2 separate regions of the Homo sapiens genome follow, and region 2 is linked to region 1. A link means that fine-mapping ties the variant in region 1 to the expression of a gene that starts in the linked region. Tissue or cell type: prefrontal cortex. Region 1 holds a variant in brackets; the other region holds the start of a gene. All regions are shown on one strand. Distances are from middle to middle.

Region 1 (8,103 bases):
ATGGGGTTCTGACAGTGTGGCAGAGTCTAAGTAGCTAGCTAGGAGTAGGTAAGGGGAGTGAGGTACATGAGGAGGGACAGAGTGCAAAGCAGAGCTGTTCCATCTGAAGGACAAGACAAAGGGCAGGGGGAGCTGAGGGCCAATGGAGGAGATCCCAGGTCAAAATCAAATCTTACTCCTCTTCTCAGCCCCACTGTCCCCTGCACCATCCCACATACCAGTTTCTTTGAAGAATCTAGGAAAAGTTGAAATAAAATGACTGGGGCAAGTGAAGAGCTGCTTAAGATTAAAAAGCTGGAGTAAGACAAGTGGGGAGACAAGATTTCTGTTAGGGGAACTATGCATTGAAAGAGGGGCCTGACGCTGAAATGGGGGTGCTGTCTCTACCTGGTCCCAAGGTCTGAAATGCTGGAAGACATTTGGAAGGTATGTGGAATGAAGAGCAGCACAAAGAGAAAGGTCAGGGACAGATGTGTTTGGGAAGGTGAAATGATTCCTGCTTCCAGGTATGTGTGTGTGAAAGGCTAGCTGTTCTTTTCCATCCTCATATCTAGTCTTAGAGCCCATTTGAGAGATGAAGTATGTGTGAGTTTGGAGGTGGGAATGGGGATCCTGAGTGTGTACCTGGGGTCCCAGTGAGATAATTGAGGTCTGGGGAAAAAAAGAGCCAGAAATCCCTGACGGTTCTTGTGTTCTGATTCCTGCTGGAGGGGGTAAAGTGTGAGAGGGGTATGGTGGTCTTGGTCTTTAGTTCTAAGAGACAGAGAGGAATAGGGACAGCAGTGAGGGGTGGGGGAAAGGGGATACTTGTCTAAGTGCTCAGAATGTACAAAGCAAGTTTGAAGAGAGGTCCCTAAAGCTATGTCAGGAGGGGAGAATTAAGACTCTATTTGAGAAGCTAAAAAAAATGATTAGAGGAGTTGAGAACTGAAGCAGTCAAAAAGGAGAGGAAGGGTGAAATCTCATGGCAAGATGCAATAGGTGGGGTGGTCTGTTTCCCATGGCTAGTCTTGGTTCTGAGAGTGAGAGAACAGTGACAGTGAGGGGCAGGCATGGAGGCAGGCCCACTTCTCCCAGGAAGCAGATGTCTAGGATGATGTGGATGTTGGGGATGAGGGTCACAGGGAAGAGACAGGAAAGAAAGAAGAATGCCAGAGCAAAGAATTAGTGAGGTGGGTTGGGTCCAGCAGTCCTAGAACTCTGTGGGGATGACAACGACGTCCCTAGCTGTAAGAGGTGGAGCCTGGGGATGGGAGAAGAGGGGCTGGCCCTATGGGGACAACTATGAGGAGAAAATCTTATATGACCCTCACACCCAGGGTGTATGTGTGTACGACTCTGGGGGTGATTGCTTCCTAGAGCTTGAGTTGGGGATGGCAGTAGCGAGTGGACTATGCTGGGCCCTTCAGTAAAGGGTGAAAGGCGTGTGAACTCTCTGGGCCCATGCTAACGGGTGAAAAAAGGGCCCTGGCCTGGGGCTGAGTAGGTCAAAGCTCACTCCTGTACCTGTGCTTGGATCCAGATGTTTGGTGGAGGCTCTACTGTGGTATGAGGGCGGAACTGAGTCAGTCCCCTCACCCCGAGGCTGGGTGGTAAGGAGTTCAGACGGGATCAGGTGGGTGAGAAGTGCTCTGGGGAGCTAAACTCCTGTCTAGATTCTTTGCCATTCTATGGAATGCTAGATCCACACAGTCCTGGCCTGAGAGGCTGCCAGGCTGTGTTGAAGCGAGTGTCCGCCCTTGAGTTTACAAATCATGTTGTGCCAGCTGTGCCGTGAGGGACTCTGGGCTGGGATGGGGCAGGTGAGCAACCTCCGACCCGCAGGTTTTACCAACGCTGCCATCTGCCCCAGACCCTGCACTGGGAGAAGCGGGGAAATCGGGCGCTCTGGACCAGGCCTCCGGTACTCTGAGTTTGGGCAGAAGACAGTTCCCTCCTCCACCCTGGCCGGCTCCGTGGCGTACCTGGTCACCGACACCCAAGCCGAAGTAACCGTGTGTCACCACTTCCCAATGCAAGAAGCAGACGAGCGCGTCCTGCCTGCAGGTGATGGCCGGCGCTGCCGATGCGAACAGTACCTCCAGGCCCGCCATGAGCGCCCGCGACTTCGGCGTCTGGAGGAAAGAAGGGGGCGGGGGTAGTGCAGTGAGCCGGCTCCGCGGCCGGGGTAGCTATAACTCTGCTTCCCTCTTGCGCTGGTTCTTGCCGAGTCCACACCTGAGACCAAAATGGAGACGCCCGGGGACGGGGCGGGGCGGGGAAGCCGGAAGTAGTCCCAACAGCGGGCGCAACTGCGTGAGGCGCGCCGGGTTGGCAACGCGAGCGCAGCACTGAAAGGTTCCGCCAGGGAGTGCGAGCGGGGCGTGGCCCCTCAAAGCCGGAAGCCGGGTCTTGGCGGCAGTCGACAGGATCGCCTGACGCGGGCACAGCGTCCTCCAAGAGGCCACCTTGCTGAGAGGCAGACTTCCCATCCACAAAATGGGGTATGCTAGGCCGGGGAAGGGGCTGGGAAATGTGGCTAAAATACATTCTTAATAATCGTTAACACGTTCGCCGTGCTTGCTACCGTCCACATTATTCTAAACGCTTTACTTGTATTCATTTATTTAATCTTCACAACCCAACTCTATGCAGTTGATATTAACGATTAATGTGCCTCATTGCACAGATGAGGAAACTGAGGCGCAGAGGGATAATTTGACCAAGATGACAACAGCCAGCCGGTGAACGGCTGAAATGGTTATGGGAACCTGGCAGTCTGGCTTCTAAGATAACATTTATTAAGTGTTTATTGTGTGCTACATCGTGCGCTAAAACCTTTACATCACCCTCTCAACAACTCTATGAAGTATGGACCGTTATTATCCCCATTTTGCAGATGACAAAACGGCTCAGAGTTGAAACCACTTCTCCAAGGAGACACAACTGCTGCCCGCAGAGCTGAAGCTCCTGACCCACTATCAAATTTCAATCATTTATTTGCCTACCCCCTTTATGATTTTTACCACCCGTTACTTCAACAAGTTTCATGAAATCCACTTATTGTTTTTACCCAAATAAATTTAGTTTCCCCATCCCAGTCACTAACCTGGTTCAAGCTCCTGTCATCTTTCACTTGGATGCCTGGCATCAGCCTCAGAACTGCCCCATTCCATTCCTGTCTCTCTCTAGTCTGTACTGCACTCCGCAACCAGAGAGATTCTGTTAGAAAACAAGTCAGATCGGCCAGGTGTGGCGGCTCATGCCTGTAATCCCAGCACTTTGTGAGGCCGAGGCAGGCGGATCACTTGAGGTCAGGAGTTTGAGACCAGCCTGGCCAACATGGTGAAACCCTGTCTCTACTAAAAATACAAAAATTAGCTGGGTGTGGTGGCGCACGCCTTTAGTCCCAGGTACTCGGGAGGCTGAGGCATGAGAATCAATCGAACCCGGGAGGTGGAGGTGGAGGTTGCAGTGAGCCAAGATCGCACCATTGCACTTCAGCCTGGGCAACAGAGCGATCTTCTGTCTCAAAAAAGAAAAAAAAAAAAAAAGAAAAGTCAGATCACATCCGTTGGCTCAAAATCGTCACACTCAATGGAAAAGTAAAGTCCTCCCCATGGTCTGCAGGAATCTGCATGTGGTCTGCCATCTCCTGCCCCAGCCCTGCCAGCCCTGTACCTCTCTGATTCAGTCTCCTTCAACTGTCCTCTCATCCCCTTTATACGTGCAATAACCTTGGCTCCCCCTCTTCTCTCACATCTACATCTGGTCCAACAGCAAAGCTAGTTGACTCCACTCTCAAAATATATTATGAATCTGACCACTTCCCATCACCTTCACTGCTTCCACTCTGGTCTGATCCTCCAGCATCTCACACTTAGACTATTGCAGTAGCTTCCCAGCCAGTTTCCCTGTTTCATGTGTTCTGTTTGGGCCTTTGCGTTCCTCTTCCTGGAATGCTCTTTTCCCAGATATCTGCATGTCTTGCTTCTTCATTTCAAGTGGCTTCATCCCTCACTCCTACCATCCTCAACAGAGGGCTTCCCAGACCATTCCATCCAAAATAACCTTCTCCCGTCTTTAATCCCTCTCTGGCTTTTTTTTTTTCCTGCAAAGCATTAATCATAACCTGAAACTATGTTAGGTGTTTATTTCTTTGCTTATTTAATGACTGTCTTTCCACTAGACTGTGACAAAGGAACAGGGAGCATGTCTACCTTGTGCACATATGTACCTGAGTGCCTTCTGGGATCAATCTATACTTATTGAAAGACAGAATGAATACTGAATGAAGGAATGAATTCTTGGCCTAGCCCCAACCCAGTCAGGGCACTCTTACCTCTTTATAGTCCATCACTCCCTTTGTCAGCTGGCCCTGTGCCTCTCCAAATTTTGTGTTCCTAAAGTTTCCTTGAGACAACCAGATTCTTGAACCCCTTCTGCAGAGATTCTGGATGAGAAGGTCTGAGGAAGAGTGCATGTATGTTGACTACATTCTGGATGACACTAAAGCTAGTGGCTGTGGAACTCCTCTCTGAGATGTACTGCCTGTGGCATAAAGCTATTTGCCCTTTCTACTGAGAAGTTCTGCACTTTCAGTCTTCCCTGCTTTTGCTTGCTCTGTCCCTTCTGTTTGTAATGCCCTTATCCAATTATGGAAAATTTCTACAGATTCATTCCATCAATAAACTTTCATAGGCTGGGCTGCCATGAACCATAGTGCAGGGTGTCCACTTAAGGTGCCTACTTAGTGGCAGCCCATTCCTAAGTGCCTACTGTGGGCCAGACACAGATGAACAGGTTCCTGTCCCTATAGAGCTCACTGTCTAGTGTTTAAAAAAAAAAAAAAGTACTGGCCAGGCATGGTGGCTCACACCTGTAATCCCAGCACTTTGGG[A/G]GGCTGAGGCAGGTGGATCACGAGGTCAGGAGTTCAAGACCAGCCTGGCCAACATGGTGAAACCCTGTCTCTACTAAAAATACAAAAATTAGCCGGGCGTGGTGGCAGGCACCTGTAATCCCAGCTATTCGGGAGGCTGAGGCAGGAGAATCGCTTGAACCCGGGAGGTAGAGGTTGCAGTGAGCCGAGATCAAGCCACTGCACTCTAGCCTGGGTGATAAAGAGAGACTGTCTCAAAAAAAAAAAAAAAGTGGATTAAGGATCAAAAGGTGTTCCAGTAAAAGGAAACAGTATGTGCAAAGGCATGGTGGAATGCAGCTAGCTCTGTGGGATTACAAGGTCAATGTTGCCTCCTGAGTGAGGTTTCCCTCGTCTCTTTGCCCATGATTAATTGCACTTTCCTCAGTGTGCTTGGCATCAGTGGGCTTTCAAGGGGTGGGCATGGGACAGTGAGAGCTATCAGCCTTAGTCAGGTGGAGAATTTTATCAATGAAGTTGATTCAAATTGCTGGTACATGATGACAGTAAAAAGTGGACTGGCCTTTGGTCTGTTTTGTTACTGCCTTTACGTTTTCTACAGCAAATGTACCTACTCCTTGTCTGCACCAGGGCAGACAGCTCCGTCACCCCCACCCCTTGGTTCAACACTGGTTTGCATACAGTTGGTTGTAGCTGGCATCTTACAGGGCAGACAGCTCCGTCACCCCCACCCCTTGGTTCAACACTGGTTTGCATACAGTTGGTTGTAGCTGGCATCTTACAGGGCAGACAGCTCCGTCACCCCCACCCCGTGGTTCAACACTGCTTTGCATACAGTTGGTTGTAGCTGGCATCTTACAGGGCAGACAGCTCCGTCACCCCCACCCCTTGGTTCAACACTGGTTTGCATACAGTTGGTTGTAGCTGGCATCTTACAGGGCAGACAGCTCCATCACCCCCACCCCTTGGTTCAACACTGGTTTGCATACAGTTGGTTGTAGCTGGCATCTTACAGGGCAGACAGCTCCGTCACCCCCACCCCTTGGTTCAACACTGGTTTGCATACAGTTGGTTGTAGCTGGCATCTTACAGGGCAGACAGCTCCGTCACCCCCACCCCTTGGTTCAACACTGGTTTGCATACAGTTGGTTGTAGCTGGCATCTTACAGGGCAGACAGCTCCGTCACCCCCACCCCTTGGTTCAACACTGCTTTGCATACAGTTGGTTGTAGCTGGCATCTTACAGGGCAGACAGGTCCGTCACCCCCACCCCTTGACACTGGTTTGCATACAGTTGGTTGTAGCTGGCATCTTACAGGGCAGACAGCTCCGTCACCCCCACCCCTTGGTTCAACACTGGTTTGCATACAGTTGGTTGTAGCTGGCATCTTACAGGGCAGACAGCTCCGTCACCCCCACCCCTTGGTTCAACACTGGTTTGCATACAGTTGGTTGTAGCTGGCATCTTACAGGGCAGACAGCTCCGTCACCCCCACCCCTTGGTTCAACACTGCTTTGCATACAGTTGGTTGTAGCTGGCATCTTACAGAACACTGGTTCCCTCTTCTACACCATCATCCCTGTCTTAACATGTATTCTCTCAGAAGCCCGTGGTGAGACAGGGATTTGAGTGGTTTATTTGGGAGCTGATTCCAGGAAATAGCGGTGGGGGCAGTGGAGTAGGGAAGTGAGACAGGAAGGAAAGGGAGCCAGCAGAGGGAGTGTGATGAAGCCAGTTACCTCTACGGGCAACTGGACCGCACTCCTACCCGGGAACTCTGGGAGGCAGTGTGGGGCATGTCTCAGAGCTATTGCATTTGAGGGCATCTGCCACAGGCTGAGAGCTGCTTCTGGGGTCCTGGAAGGCCCTCAGGCACAGAGTTGCATAATTTAGAGAAAGCAGTCTTTGCGTCTAGAGGTGACTGCTGAAGGGTGATGAGGGTGTTGTAGTGCGATCTGCTCTGTCCTCCCACACCCCTGACCGGGGGTAAGCCATGCCTTAGAAAGTCCGTAACCCAGGCCGGGCGCGGTGGCTCACGCCTGTAATCCCAGCACTTTGGGAGGCTGAGGCGGGCGGATCACGAGGTCAGGACATCGAGACCATCCTGGCTAACACAGTGAAACCCCGTCTCTACTAAAAATACAAAAAATTAGCCGGGCGTGGTGGCGGGCACCTGTAGTTCCAGCTACTCGGAGGCTGAGGCAGGAGAATGGCGTGAACCCGAGAGGCAGAGCTTGCAGTAAGCTGAGATCGCGCCACTGCACTCCAACCTGGGCGACAGAGCGAGACGCCGTCTCAAAAAAACCAAAAAACAAAAAAAAAGAAGAAGAAGAAAGTATGTAACCCAGCAGCCAGCATGGAATAGGCACTGGCATCAGTGTATTGAAAGAATGAGGTGAGCTCTATCTCTTGCACTAGGCTGTGAATCCCCTGAAGGCCAGGACTATGTTCCACCTGTCCTGAACCCCAGGGTCCTCCAGGGATGGGAACAAATGGGAGGAACTCCTGGGGCTGGTGTGTGTGTGTGTGTGTGTGTGTGTGTGTGTGTGTGTGTGTGTGTGTTGCCCCTGATCCATCCAGCACTTTCTGTGGACTTACCTACATCAGCAAGAGTCCCATTCTGCCCTATGAGGGCTGTGGGTGGCTGAGAAGGGAAGCAGGTGGCAGGTGCCTCCCTGTCTGGGCCCCCACTACCAAGAGCCTATGCCAGAGGTGAGGGCCCAGGATGATGGAAAGAACTTGGCTGGTGGCTGCAGCCACCAGTTCCTGGTTGCCAAGTGACAGCAATGTGGGTATTCCAAGCTCCCTGCCTCCCTGGAAACCATGAAGAACTGAACCAAGGGGCAGCGCCTAGATGGGCACTGAGGCGAAATCGTTCACTACTGTAATTCTTCTTTGGCCTAGCATCAGCCCAACCGTATCACCTCCTCCAGGAAGCCCTCTATGATTAATATTGTTCTTTGTTTCTACCAAGTAGCTGATATCCAAGACTTCCCAACTTCCCATTCCCCTTGTCCGTGGGGTACCTAGCATATTTGACACCCATAGCAGATATCTCTTTTTTTTAAAAAAATGATAATTTTTAGGCTGGGCATAGTGGCTCATGCCTGTAATCCCAGCACCTTGGGAGGCGGGCGGATCACAAGGTCAGGAGATCGAGACCATCCTAGCTAACACGGTGAAACCCTGTCTCTACTAAAAATACAAAAAAATTAGCCAGCCGTGGTGGCAGGCACCTGTAGTC
Region 2 (8,096 bases), 110 kb after region 1:
GTCTTCACCCGATGAATAATACATGTCCTCTGGCTGCTTAAGAAGAGCTTGTAGGGGTCAGAGCAGACACAGGAAGGAGCTACTGCATGACTGGGGCAAGAAATGAGGGTGGCCCAACGTTGGTCAATGGGCCAGATGTTCACCAAATTCTTGCTTTTCCTCCTGTGTGTTGTCTGGCACATGGCTGGACTACATTTCCCAGTCACCCTTGCAGGTAGGTGTGGCCGTGTGTCTGAGTTCTGGCCAATGGGACATAGGTAGACAGGCTCTGTACTTCCCATAAGCCCTGCCCTTCTCGGTGAGCTTTAAACCAGGTACTGAACAGGGCAGAACACAAGCTGAAAGGAATCTGAGTTCCTGCTATCCCACAGAGAAGGATCTGCTGATCAGGAACACATGCTGTGAGCTTAGTGTGTTTCAGCCATTATACCTGTCTTCATCTATTTGTGACAATGGTGCCTTAACTGACACCCTTGGGTGCACCCCTCCCCGCCCCCCGCCAGAGCATGCCATCAGCATCACTAGCCTCCCTGGGCACCTGTATTGGGGTAGGGGAACTGGATAACAGGCCAAGATGCCCAGACAGCCCCCATAGTTAGAGAACCAAACACCCTCTGAGCATCTTGGGGTATGAAGGGCCCTGAGTTCTGGGCCTTAGAACCCTAGAAATATCCAATTCTGGAAGCACTAAAGGGGCTCTCACAGAACACAAAATCCCATCTGTGCCATTGAACAACTGGGGAAATTGAGCCTAAGAGAACAGAAAGTACTTGAGGTCCCACAATGAATCTATGGATGAATGAGTGCTTATTCATTCACTCATTTTTTAAAAAAATCCATTCCACAAGTATGTCTTAATCACTGCAGTGTAAGGCACATAGGGACAAAATAGAAGATTCCTGTCCTCATGGAACTCACAAACAAGCAAACAGGAACTGACAGACATGAACAGGTACTACGGAGGGTAAAGCAAGACAAGAGGATAAAGTGCATGGTGGTGCGTTTTACTGGAGTGGTCACAGGGGGCCTCTCTGAGGAGGCAACATCGAGGGGAGACAAGCCCCAAATCTGGGGAAAGACTTTCCAGGCAGAGAGAACAGCAAAAACCGCAGGATGAGTGACAAGAGTCTGAGAAACACGAGGCTAGCTAGAGCAGAGGCAGTGGGGAATAAATAGGGGAAAAAATTCAAGAAGGGGTAAGCAGCTTCATCCTGCAGAGCCGTGTGGCTGGCTGTCAATTCACAATGCACATTGGACCTCTCTGGCCCTGCTCACATGGAAGCTGTCCCCTTTGGACTTTGGAGACTCCAGTACTGGGGGTAGTGGGGAAGGGAATGACCTCCGCTTTCCTAAGGCTTGATCTTCTGGGGTCACCTCATTTCTCCAAGTACCTGCATTCCATGTACAGGCTGGGAGACTTGTGCATCTGGAGAATTCATTCATTCACCATTCATTTATTTATGCACTCATTATGCAAACATTCTGAGCACCGCTGTGTGTCTGGCTCTGGCTTGAAAGAGATGGCAGTTTGGAAGGAGAACAGACACATCCATTGTTACCACCTGATGTGATCAGAGCTGTGATAAAGAGATTGTGGATGCCCAGAGGAGGCACTGGACCTGGCCTGAGAATCAGGGAAGGCTTCCTGGAGCAGAGGCAGTGAAGAAGGAGGTAGGATATAGGATGGTATTCCATGGAGAGGCCCCACAACATGAAAAGCTCAGAGGTGTGAGAGGCCTGTGGTGTTTGTGAAATATTCAAGGGCTGAAATCTCTAAGGCTAAAGAGAGAGGGGTGGGGCAGTGGGAAAGACTGAGATCAGAGATATCAGAACAAGAGGTCCTTGCAGGCCATGGTGATGACCACAATGGGACACCTGGATGCCCATGTCAGCTCAGTCCTTGACTCACTGGGTGGCCTAATCTAGGCACCCCCCAGTCCTGAAGGCTCAGTGGCCTCATCTGTGAAATGGAGCACTTTGGGTGGGCTGTCTCTGACATTCCACCAAGTTCTCCGTGTTGTCTGCCAGCGTTCTTGGGGCCCCACAGAAAGAATGGCCAGGCCAGGGCTGTACCTTCAGCTGCCACACTCTCTGTGTGTTTCCCCTGCCCCTGCCATGCCTTCAAGTGTCCCTCATTGCACTGGGAGAAGGAGCTGGAGGAGATACCAGCATTTACCTTCCATTTCTTTTGGAGCAAGCTCCACATGTAGGAAAAAAGAGGACAGGCTGGGTGGGGTGGCTCACGTCTGTAGTCCCAGCACTTTGGGAGGCTGAGGCAGGTGGATCACTTGAGGTCAGGAGTTCAAGACCAGCCTGGCCAACATGGTGAAACCCCGTCTCTACTAAAAACTACAAAAATTAGCTGGGTGTGGTGGCAGGTGCCTGTAATCCCAGCTACTTGGGAGGCTGAGGCAGGAGAATCACTTGAACCCAGGAGGCAGAGGTTGCAGTGAGCCGAGATGGCGCCATTGCACTCCAGCCTGGGTGACAGAGTGAAAACCCATCTCAAAAAAAAGAAAAAAAAAAGAAAAGAAAAAGGAAGGACAATTGTTCAGCAAGAGAGTGTCAACTGTAAGTTTCTCTAGGCCTCCCTCCAAGGCCTCTTCCATTCTGATGAGTCTGTGCCTGAGAAGTGGCTAAGAGGGGCAGGCACTGGACCAGAATGGCCACTGACCTGCTGTGTGGCCTTGGGCAAGTCACTTGGCCTCTCTGAGCTTCCCTTTGCTCCCCAGAAAAGTGGAATTACTCAGAATACAAACCCAAACCATTGGGTTGTTTTGAAGACTCTAGTATATGTCAAGTTCTTAGCAATGCCCACCATATATGCCTCACAAATGATAGCTAGCATGATTGTTGTTGTTTTTGGTGGTTATAGTGACAGGAGAGGTGAGCATGCTGTCGGGTTGAAGGAGGAATTTTGCTCTGAAAGGGTTAAACTTGAACCAGCTGCTCCCAGTCCTGGTGATAAGGTTGGAGGAAACACAGTCCAGGTCCCCAGCCCTGTCACAAGTGGATTTATGAGGTGCTGGTCACTTTGAGTCGGAGTAGATGATCCCCGCAGACTGCACAGGAAACATTCAGGGTTAGTGGCCAGAAGGGGCTCAGGCCTCTGTTAAAAGAATGAGACAGAGTAGAGAGAAAAAGAGAAAGCCAGGCAGCAGGAGCCCCGCAAACACCCCACCCTGCAGGAGGGGAGAAGGGGAGAGATGGGGTTGAAGGGAGAGACAGAGAAAAGGGAGAACCAGAGGCCCAGCCAGGAGGACACAGACAGTGAGCCTGAGAGAGAGACGGCCGGCAAGAGTAAAGGATGCAGGAACAGCCAGGCAGGGTCGGGGGCAGAGCAGGGGAGCGCGGGCCGCGGAAAGACCGAGAAAGCAGGAGACAAGGAGTTGTCCTTAAGGGCCAGAAGGAGGAACAGACAGAGAAAGGGGACTGGGGGGAGGGAAAGAAAATCACAGGCGCTGAGAGGGCGCGGGGGACCGTACGGGTCTCCGGGTGTCCGCGCATCTGTACCTGCGCGCGCGTGCGTACCTGTGGCTGGCGGTGGGCACGTGCACGTGCTCGGGGGCAGTGCTGGGGGCGGGAAAGACGCAAGACCGCCGGCTGCGGGACAGATCGAACTCGAGGGCCCCGACCCGGGTGACCCCCGCCCCCTCCCCGCGCGCGCTCCCGGGCCCCGAGCTGGTTAACGCGCCGCCCCCGCCGCGCCGGCTCCTCCCCGCCAGGGCAGTGCCCCGGCTCCGCCAACGCCCTCACTAGACCTGGCGGCCGGACCGACCCGCGCCTGGCGGATGCGCCCGGCGCGCCCACAGCAGCCCCCGCGCCCGCCGTGCCGCCGCCGGGACGTGGGGCCCTTGGGCCGTCGGGCCGCCTGGGGAGCGCCAGCCCGGATCCGGCTGCCCAGATGCGGGCGCCACTCTGCCTGCTCCTGCTCGTCGCCCACGCCGTGGACATGCTCGCCCTGAACCGAAGGAAGAAGCAAGGTACAAGGGGTGGCTGGGCAGGGCGGCCGGGCAGGCGCTGCGGGGCAGACCGGGGGCCGGAGGACCGGGGGCGGCGGCTCTGGGGGCATCTGCCTGGTGCCTGGCGCCCTGGGTCCTTCGCTCCTCCAGACGAGTCTCAACCTCACTTAAGATGGGGAGATTGAGGCTCCAGGGCACCCAGTGAGCGAGCCATTGAGTAGGGTGGGCCAAGGAGACTCACCCAGAAGGGAGAGGGTAGCAGGGCTCTCTGTAGTAGCCGCATGGTCAGCAGAAAGGAGGATGGCTTCGTGCAGAGACAGAAGACTCAAGAGCCAGCCTGCGGGGCACAGGGACTAGGAGACAGACTCAGTGGCGTAGAAGCCATTCCAAGCATCCATGCTCGGCCAGGAAGTGACATAGAGAGCCTTGGGCTGGGCGTCCAGAGGCCCCAGTCCCAGCCTCATCACTCACCCTGACTCCTGGTGTCACCTCCCAGAGGGCAGTGATCCTCCATGGCCCCCCTATGTTGAGTTCAGCCAGACCTGAGACCTGAGTTCAGGTTCACTTATTCTAATAGGGGATGACCTAGAAGAAGTCCAGCCCCTCAGAGAGCCTCAGCTTTTCCATCTTCACCTCTCAGGCCACTAGGAAGATGAGCCAAGGTTCAGATTATAAATGTACCAGGGGCCGCATGCGCTCTCACCTGGGAGTCCTATGCCACAGCCTCGCTGTGAGAGTCAGAACATCCTCAGAAGGTGGGTTGGAGGCTGTCCCTGCAGAGCAGGAGTTGGTAGAGCCTGTGCCTCAGAGAAGGGTAAGCGGGTGAGCAAGTGAGCAAATCGCCTGCCTGAGCTGGGCAGCCCTTTGGCCTCCAGGTGCCACTCTTAAGATCAGCAGCCGAATGCCAGCCACTATGCCACGGGTTTTTCATGTCCTAGCTCATCAAATCCCAACTATATGCTCATGACATAGGGGTCGTCCAGTTTTAATAAAGCCTGGGATTCCAAGGCTCAGACTGGTTTAAATAACTGCTGAATTGTCCAGCTGGTGTCTTCTCTCTTTCCAGCCCTGGCATCGGGTCTGAGCAAGGATAAAGGGGAAGGAAAATGAGAGAGGATGGGTTGCCCTCTGGGGCCTTCCATTTGTGTGAAAGCCCTACAGCGACACAGTCACTCCTGGAACGGAGCAGGAAGCAGACAGAGGCTGTGGGAGAATTGGGAGGTGGGATTGGATGGGGTTGGGGAGACTGTGGCCCAAGAGGCTCCAGTTCTTGCTGTGACAGTGGGACAAGGGACTAGAGAGGCGTGTGGTTTTCAGCTGAGCTGGGGTGAGTTTGGGACTCTATGGGGACACTCCTTTGTGAATGGCCTTTGTTTAGTAGTTAGGGGCATGGGCTCTGGAGCCAGGTCAACTGAGTTCAAATCCCAGCTTCCCCAGTTACCAACTGAGTGACTTTGGATAAGTCACTTTGCCTGTCCAATCCTCACTTTACCCATCTGAGGGTCCTTTAGAAGATCTCTGAGATCTTTCTCCATTCTAAACAATACCAAAAAATCAAACAAACCCCCTTTCCCTTCATCAACCCATCTTTTACTTAAGTATCCTGCTCATAAGGAGGATTGTGGGCAAGATGAGTAGCTAAGGACACAGGCTCCTAATGGGTGCTCGTAAGTATTAATCATTCTCATTTCCTGTCCACTGTGTCTTTGGCTACTCACAGTGGCTTAGTGGAGGGAGGGGAGAGATGCTTGTTTTCTGGATGAGGGAACTGAGGTTCAGAGAAGGAAACTGACTTGTCCAAGGTCGCACAGCAGGTGAGTAGCAAAGCAGGCTCGAATCCCAATCTGCCTGACATAATGCTGAGAAGATATCTTCTGAGGTGTGCTGGTCTTCCCTTCTCAGAGCCTCAGTTTCCTCATCTAAAGAGGAGCTGGTTTAGGCCAGGTGTGGTGGCTCACGCCTGTAATACCAGCACTTTGGGAGGCCAAGGCAGGCGGATCATTTGAGATCAGGAGTTTGAGACCAGCCTGGCTAACATGATGAAACCCTGTCTTTACTAAAAATACAATGATTAGCTGGGTGTGGTGGCGGGCGCCTGTAATTCCAGCTACTTGGGAGGCTGAGGCAGGAGAGTCGCTTGAACCCAGGAGGCAGAGGTTGCAGTGAGCCGAGATCATGCCACTGCACTCCAGCCTGGGTGTCAGAGTGAGACTCTGTCTCAACAACAACAACAACAACAAAAAGGAGCTGGTTTAGAAGACTTTAAGATGCTTCTCAGCTCAAAAAAGACAAAAAAATTAAAGAAAAATGAAAAATTCCTATCCTGCCCCTTTTGCCCCCCGCCCCATCTACAGCTCACCACCACCTCCCCAGGAGCTCAGTGAGGAGGTAGGGATATGGCCGCAATTTGGTGAGGGGCTCTCAGCATCCCTCCTCCAGTACCTGATCTCTTGCCTCTGGGACACACACCTGCCTAGCATCTTCAGAAGAGGCTTAGGGCTCCATTTATTTGTTGGGGTACAATGGAGATAGCCTTGGATTTCAGTCACACCCCTGACCCAGTTGTATCATGTGACCTTGGGTGAGTGGATTTTCTCTGTCCCCCGCCCATAGCCTCAGTTTCCCACTGGCACTGCAGTGGGGACCAGAGCTAGATAAACCCTTCCTGTAGCATATTTTGCAAGGCAGCCACAGGAGTTCTGGTCAAATAGATTGGGAAATGCTGGGTTTAGCAGATTTCTTGGCTGTGAGACTTATCAGAGCATGCTGAAGAGGTGGAGACAGACAGTGTAACCCAGGTGCGATGGCTCAAGCCTATAATCCTGGCACTTTGGGAGGCCAAGATGGGAGGATAGCTTGAGCTCAGGAGTTCGAGACCAGCCTGGGCAACATGGCAAAACTCTACAAAAAATACATTTTTTGTCTCTATAAAAAAATACAAAAAATAGCCAGGCATGTTGGTGGTGGTGCACACCTGTAGTCCCAGCTACTTAGGAAGCCGAAGTGGGAGGATCGCTTCAGCCCAGGAAAGACATCAAGGCTGCAGTGAGCCGTGATTGTGCCACTGCACCCCAGCCTGGGCGACAGAGCAGACCCTGTCTCAAAAAAAAAAAAAAAAAAAGAGAGCGAGAGAGAGTGACCTTTCCCAAACATATTACACATCAGAGACCATTTCTCATAAGGCATCTGCTTGGAAAATTCTGTACACAATCCCTCAGGGTCCTACCAGCTTTGACCTTATCTAACTTTGGCAGGAGAATGTGTCCTGAAAACACCTGGGTATTGGCAGTGCTTCATTCATTCACTTGTTCATTTCACAGGGCAGCCTCTGTGCCAGGCTCTGTGTTGGGGACCTTGGAGATACCCAGGTGAGCAGCCCTGGGCCTGTCCTTGGGGAGCTGCCAACATAGAGGGATGACCCTTTCCCACCTTTCTCCAGCCTCCCCCATGCCTGAGTCTTTGGCCTTAGCGTTTGGCCAGGTCTGCACAATCCCGAGGAATGAGGTGCTGGGCTGGCATCTGCCCTCTCTGAGCCTGCTTGAGGCCTGGTTCCCACAGGCCCATCCTTCCTCAGGCTCCGGCGTCACTGCGTCTTAATGAAGCCCAATTTTTCTGTTTCTAAGAAAGAATGAAGTAAAAGACTTGAGAAAGATTCTTGGATCTCAAGTGTCTCTTACAAAACAGCATGTTGATTAATGAAGTGTAAATGAATCAGAACCAGATGGGGACATTTTTTTGAAACATGCTGGGGTGTCCTGGCAATGGGACAGTAGGGCAGAGTGAGGGGGCCCTGGTTCGCATCCCTAGATCTGGAGGTCCATTTGGGCAAGGAGGAGATGCCAGCCTGTGACTGACTTTCCCTGACATCCAAGGCCTTCTGGGGAGGGACCCCCACATTCACATGGAGCTTCTGGATCTTTCTAGACCTGAGCAAGCAAGGGGCAAAGTGAAGAGCCCTGGGATCAAACCTTGAGCCCTCTCCTGCCCTAGATATGTGACATTAAGCAGGCCACATGCCTTCTCCCGTCCGTGCTTCCCCATCTGTGAAATGGGAAAACTTACACCTACCTCTCTGAGCAATTGGGAAGATTTACTGCAGTCCAAGAGGGAAGGGGGCCAAAGGCACACAGTAGG

Which allele goes with the higher level. Alleles are on the strand shown, and positions count from the first base shown. SD is a standard deviation of normalised expression in the study named.
As copies of A replace G in region 1, the expression in prefrontal cortex of the gene that starts at base 3,758 in region 2 goes down (moderate effect, 0.61 SD a copy in GTEx).

The links. PIP is the estimated chance that this variant, and not a neighbour inherited with it, causes the effect.
Region 2: RSPO4 starts here. The variant in region 1 is fine-mapped to the expression of RSPO4 in prefrontal cortex (GTEx, PIP above 0.99).

What each region holds. Positions count from the first base shown.
Region 1 is chr20:1,112,764-1,120,866 of GRCh38, reverse strand. It overlaps PSMF1 (proteasome inhibitor subunit 1), which reads right to left and starts at 2,265. Exons shown (of 7, transcript NM_006814.5): 1 at 1,965-2,265. The coding sequence starts at 2,093. LOC105372493 (a long non-coding RNA gene) reads left to right here and starts at 2,419. Exons shown (of 2, transcript NR_136535.1): 1 at 2,419-2,483; 2 at 2,879-3,015. RefSeq lists enhancers at 1,993-2,122, 2,163-2,352, 2,363-2,412, 2,423-2,472, 1,872-2,514. The variant A/G (reference allele first, on the strand shown) is at 4,880.
Region 2 is chr20:997,973-1,006,068 of GRCh38, reverse strand. It overlaps RSPO4 (R-spondin 4), which reads left to right and starts at 3,758. Exons shown (of 5, transcript NM_001029871.4): 1 at 3,758-3,983. The coding sequence starts at 3,905. RefSeq lists a silencer at 154-334 and an enhancer at 129-423.